2 separate regions of the Homo sapiens genome follow, and region 2 is linked to region 1. The links come from fine-mapping of genetic effects on gene expression. A gene starts in region 1. The other region holds a variant in brackets. All regions are shown on one strand. Distances are between the middles of the regions.

Region 1 (2,894 bases):
AGAGGGTTTGCACTGGATAATCTCTCAAGCTCCTAGATTGCCAAGACGCCAGTCCACTCACAGCTCCCCAGGCTCCGCTCTCCTGTTGCCCTGCCAGACGCCCCTTCCCCCACCTTGTGCAGAGTAACCCCCTCCTGACTCAAGAGGCAGCCCCTCTAGAAAACTTCCTTCCCCTCCTCCCCTGCCCCGGTACATATTGCGCGGCCCTTACTGTTGCTGTGTCTGTCCTGTCATCTGGAGGTGCACAACTACCCCATGCTTCACAGTGAAGCCAGTCGGCTGAAGGAAAGATGAACGGGCACTTTCTCTTTGTAGAGATTTCCGGAATCTCCTGAGGCCACTTTTATTGCTTCCCGTCTTTGTGAAAAAATAGGCTTGGAAATAGGTGAGGCTCGGTCACCCCCTCTGGGTGGAAGGAGAAAGCAAGCTCCGTCGGTTTGGGCCGCGGCTGCAGGGAATGCCCCTGGTTGCGACCCCCGTCCCGCGCTGGGGAAAGTGATCTGCTCGAGAGCCCCCAGGACCCTGAGAACCGGTCCCCACCCAAGGCGGCGGCGGGCAATTCCGGCACCGCGGCAGACGGGATGCGCGGAGCGCGTTCCCTCCGGGTTTCCCTCACGCCTCTGGAGAGCGGGAACCAACGACCTTGACCTCGGAGGAAACGGCTCTACGGAGCGATGGACGGCCCCACAGAGAGGGCGGCCGGCTCCTCTGGAAAACTTGTCCACACAAAAGGCATTCCTCAGCTTCCACCCCGAAAGGCGAGCCCTGGGTGTAGGGTTACCAGCGGCGCGCGGAGCCCGCCGAGAACGTGGTGCGCCCCCAGCTCCTGCCCGCGCTCCCCGGCCTCCGTGCGCCCCGCGCGCCTCCGCTCTTGCGCCCGCTTTCCCGCGGGGAAGGGGCCACCGCCCTGCGAGGCTGGCGGCCGCCCCGTCGTCCCCAAGCTCGGGGCCGCCCTGGACTTCCATCCCGCGCCTCTGACGGCCGGGGACACTCGCTCCCTGGGCCGCGGCTCAGGAGAGGCGGCCCCGCGGGGCTCCGGGCGGGGTGGGAGGCCGAGGCCCGGCTCCTCCAGCCCCTCCCGCGGCCCCACCTCTCCGCGCTCGGCTCCCTCTGCCCAGCGCGGGCCGGGAAGGCGCGGGCTTGGCCGCTCTTCCCCTCCACGGCAAAGCCGTGAACGGACAGCTGATGCCACTTCCTTCCCTGCCAGCGCCCTCCCTGCCCGACCCCGCTTCCCGTCCTCTCGCCGGGAGGGAGTGCGGCCCGTGGGGCGCTGCGCCGGCCAGACCCACCCGGGGCCCGGGGGCTGCCAGCAGAGCCGGGAGCTGGCCCGGCCTCGGCGCCGTCCCGGACCCCCAGTCGGCCGCGCCCCGAGGGGCGAGGCCTGCGGGCCGCACTCCCTCCGGCCCCGGATTCGGGGCTGGAAGTCCCTCCCCGAACCCAGCAGCTGGCCTGGGAGGGAGAAGGGGCTGGAGAGGGCCTGGCCTCTCCGAGGGATGGAGGGGACAGAGGCGGCGGCGGCCAAACCCGCGGGCGGCAGCCCCCAGTGAGTATAGAGGAGGCAGCGCCGGGCCGGCCGGGCGGGGGTGGCGGACCGGCGGGGCGGAGGAGCGGGGAGCCCAGGTCGCCCCGGCCACTGGGAAGCGGGCCTCCCACGGGCTCGGAGCTGGAAGGGTCGTGGGGAGGCCCGCCCTTCACGTCCATCTTCGTTTGGCCCCTCTGAGTTAGGGGAAATACATCACAGTGCTTGGGCCATAGAACCAGGCAGCTCCGAGCTGACCGATCTTCCCGAAAGCCCGTGCCCAGGGGACTCCAGTGGGAGGGTCTCATTCTTTAAGGTCTCTGGCGTGCTGTTCCAGAGTTTACCCATCAACAATTCTTACTTTAATTTTTTGGAGCCAGGGTCTCGCTCTGTCGCCCAGGCTGGAGTGCAGTGGTGCGATCATGGCTCACTGCAACCTCGACCTCCCGGGCTCAAGCCCGGCCTCCTCTGGCTTCAGCCTCCCCAAAAACAAAAAGTTATTTTAACTTAACAGAAATTGCTCATATTACATTCTAATCCCCTGTTTTCTGGATTGGACTTTAGAGGAGAAGAAGGAGATGCAAAGAGAAACTTGCTGCATTCTAGATTAACTCATAGAACAAATTATTTCTGTCCTCCTAAAGATAATCCTTAAACTTTACTGGCTTAAAACTGGTGTGACATTTCGCATTATATGTGTATTTTGCTTTATAAAATATGTGCATTCCTGAAAGCTTGTGTATAAATTGAATTGTAATAAACGACTACAGAGAGACTTGCCATTTAAGAGAATTTTATGGTGAATACTTGGTCCGTGTTACGAAGTGGATAACTCCTAATTTGTAGTGTATACACATAAGGATTTTTATGCACAAAGTTTACTTCAAGGGGGGGGGGACATCTAGATGTGTGATATTAAAGTTGTATTTTTCTCAGAAGGTAGAATCAATATTAAAACGCTGTGGCATGTAGATATGCATGCAACACCCTGAGTCAAACCCCTGCTCACCTTCATTCCTTGTGAAGGGATAAACATCAGCCATGCTGCTAAGGATCTGTGCAGCGCTGACAAGCCACCTAGCCTCTGGGGATGGAACATTATCATTTACAGAATAAGGGGAGTAGGGTTAAGTGATCACTACATGTTTTGGAAAAGGCCTGGGCTTGGAATGAGAAGCTTTGGTTTCCAAACTGGGCCTCCTCTTAGCACCTGTGTATTGTAATCTGTGCCTCAGTTTCTCCATCTGTAGAAGTATATAATAAAGCCATTCTTTCTTTTCTTTTCTTTTCTTTTTTTTGAGACAGAGTCTCGCTCTATCGCCCAGGCTGGAGTGCAGTGGCGGGATCTCGCCTCACTGTAACCTCCGCCTTCTGG
Region 2 (2,894 bases), 23 kb after region 1:
TAACCTTGTGGGTTGCGGTTGCCACAGAGCACGGTGGGAGACTGTAGCCCAGGGTGGAGAGGGTAGGGCCGATGCGTGTCCATACCTCCCCAGGTTTCTGCCCTTGACCTCTCTCCTCCTGTCTCTTCATCAGAGATGGCCACAGAAGCCCAGCCCGGGACCCCAGGACGACCCCTGCCTGCAGAGACAGCCTCCAGAACGGGCACACGAGCGATTCCTCCAGCGGAGAGTCCAGCGGTGGGCACAGGCCGAGGCGGGGCCCCTCGCCGTCGCACGTGCGCTTTGAGGATGAGTCCGCCCGCGAAGCCGAGTTCCGTCACCTGGAGCGGCTGCAGCAGCGCCAGCGCCAGGTGCTGAGCACCGTGTTGCAGGCCGCGGACCAGGGCCCCCTGCGCTCCAAGCCCGACCTCGCCGACTACATCAACGGGGCTCCCCGGCTCCGGGACGCGGGGCAGGGGACATTCCACAGGCTTGTGGGCAGCCTGGACCGCAGGGGACACCCGGCACCGCCGGCACCGGGCAGCGAGAGGAGGTGCCAGGCCTGCGGCAGCTGCATCGACGACCCGCGCCCCGCCCAGGGGAAGGCGCCCCCCGTCCCCAGGACCCTCCAGGAGCTCCAGGCTGCCTGTGGGATGGAGAGGGTGCTGGGTGGCCTGAGCTCCCCACTCCGGCTCCTTCCTGCAGAGCCCCGGCTCCACATGGAATGGATCCGGGAAACACACATCGGAGACACCGTGTGCCCTGCGGAGGTGGACTCTGCCCTGGACAGCACAGACAACTCTGACAACTGCAGGACCGACAGTGAGGAGGCGGGGACCTCTCAGGCTGGCTGGGCGTGTGGGCGGACCCAAGGCAGCAGCCCGCGACTGCGACTGCGGGGCTCCAGGCCTCGAGGCCACAGGTGGTCCAAGAAGGCTGAGGCGGAGCTCCCTTGGGGCCTTCAGGCCCAGCAACACCTGCCTAGGGCTGATGATGTGGAGGTGGAAAATGAGGTGAAAGAGGGCAGAGGACACACGCCTGAAGGAACTCTATTTTTGAGAGAAGATGCCAAGCCTCCTGACCTGGAGTTGAAGCGGGTGTCCCTGGGACCCCAGTGGCAGCCTGGACCAGGGCTGGGAAGTCACCAGCCTCACCCTTTGGATTCCCGGACTCCATGCAGGACAGCCTATGCCACCACCGCCCCCATGACGCCTGAATCATCGGGGCCAGGAGGCCAGGCCCAGGTTACAGAAAGCCACGAGTCCCTGGAAATTGTCTCTCCTTCCTCCCTGCAACAGAGCCATGCAGAGCCTTCTGCCCCACACCAAGCCTGGCAGCCAACAGCTTCCTTGTGTCCTGAAGGCTGGGCGCCAACCCCTCCCCCTTCGAGGAAAACCACCTCGCCAGTGTCTCACAGGAAGGCAGCCCTGGCTGGACTGCTCAGGCTGGGTGACCAGACAGAGCCTGTGGGTATCCCTCGGCCTCCTTCAAGAAGCGCGGTTCTCAGGACCTGTGAGCTGCCCCCATCACAGACCCAGCCCAGCCGCCCTCAGGTCAGGCACCCACTGCTGGCCCTGTCCACCAACAACTGCAACAA[C/T]AGCGCACCTCGGGGGCTGCAGGAGCCCTACGGGGGAGCCGTCCACGAGGGTAGGGTGGAGAGGGGCCCCTGCAGCCGGGAACCGGAGCCGCCCCTGGAGAACAGCAGAGATGGTAAGGGGCTGCCGCTGGTTCCTGCCCAGCCCAGGCCTGGTGTGGTTCTACAGCAGACGCCCAGACCCAATCCATGACACACAGGCCTTCAGAGTCATTCCCTTTTATCTCAATAGTCAGATGGCAGCGTCACATACCACCTCGGCAGCTCCTTGGAGCTGCTCTGAGGTGTCAGGGGTGCTGGTGGAGGCTGGATGCAGGATTGACCGCCGGCCTGGAGGCAGACTAAGCAACTCCCTCCCGGGGGAGGCAGAACCATGGGGAAGGTGGTGGAGACGTCCTCTTCCTGTTGGGAACCCTGAGGTTCCAAGCTCCAAGCTCCAAGCTCCATGGCTGCTGGAGGCCTGGACTTTAAGGGATGTACTCCCAACAGCTCAGGAAGAGGCAACAGCTCCAGGATTTACTATTTGTTTAGAACAGTAGATGTCCACTAATCACATGGCTGAGGCCCTGCCCCTCCAGCATCATTATTTCATTTCATTCACTCATTCATTCCTTCCGCATTGGCTGAGCACCTGTTATGTGCCAGGCACTATACTAGGCACTGTGGGGAATGCACATGTGAATACTTGAGCAGGAGTCCTGCCCTTGAGGCATTCTGTGGCCAGGCAGACACACTGTCCAGAGGACCCTGTGACCAAGGGAACAGGGCTCCTAGGTGGTGTGCTTTCTGGTACCAGACCCTCCCTGGCCCCTGGGCCTGTTGGTGGACCAGTAGGTTTCAGCAGGCAAGGCTGCTGAAGGGTGTGGGTCTCACCACTTTGCCTTTGGAAGGGGTCCTTATATTGTGGGAGAATCCTGGGGGTTGGCAGGCTCAGGCTCTGATCCCTGGTGTTGTGATCCCAGGTGACCAACTCTGCCGCTCACTTTTAGGCAGAGATAACAGGCTCACTCCACACATTTTTGCTCTAATGTGACCACGGCTCTGACAGTCTTGGGGCTGGGATGGCTCAAGAGGGACCCAGGGCTTGGCAACAGAGTGGAGGGAGAGAGGGCAGAGAGATGACAGACCTTATTGAGGATGTGGATGCAAAGTCCCCTCCACTGCACAGGGACACACAGACTTGGTCCCTCTTCCTCCCTTGCTTACACAAACCTTGAGGCAACCGCCTCCCCCTGGGGTCCCTCCCACCCTGTGCTGAGTGGCGATTTCCTTCTCTGGTGGGCTCTAGGCAGGCTGTGGGCTTGCCCCTAACCACTTCCTG

Which allele goes with the higher level. Alleles are on the strand shown, and positions count from the first base shown. SD is a standard deviation of normalised expression in the study named.
As copies of C replace T in region 2, the expression in tibial artery of the gene that starts at base 1,147 in region 1 goes up (small effect, 0.30 SD a copy in GTEx).

Evidence for each region. PIP is the estimated chance that this variant, and not a neighbour inherited with it, causes the effect.
Region 2: its variant is fine-mapped to the expression of KIAA1614 in tibial artery (GTEx, PIP above 0.99). The same link has a PIP of 0.9 or more in aorta, atrial appendage, cerebral cortex, fibroblasts, lung and prefrontal cortex.

Annotation. Positions count from the first base shown.
Region 1 is chr1:180,911,751-180,914,644 of GRCh38, forward strand. KIAA1614 reads left to right here and starts at 1,147. Exons shown (of 9, transcript NM_020950.2): 1 at 1,147-1,543. The coding sequence starts at 1,494. It overlaps LINC02816 (long intergenic non-protein coding RNA 2816), which reads left to right. Exons shown (of 4, transcript NR_185877.1): 4 at 1-2,306. RefSeq lists a silencer at 943-1,242.
Region 2 is chr1:180,934,982-180,937,875 of GRCh38, forward strand. KIAA1614 reads left to right here. Exons shown (of 9, transcript NM_020950.2): 5 at 134-1,689. It overlaps LOC107985231 (a long non-coding RNA gene), which reads right to left. Exons shown (of 2, transcript XR_007066761.1): 2 at 1,777-2,894. Among named protein-coding and RNA genes, the nearest start is that of KIAA1614-AS1, 18 kb to the right of the region's middle. The variant C/T (reference allele first, on the strand shown) is at 1,577.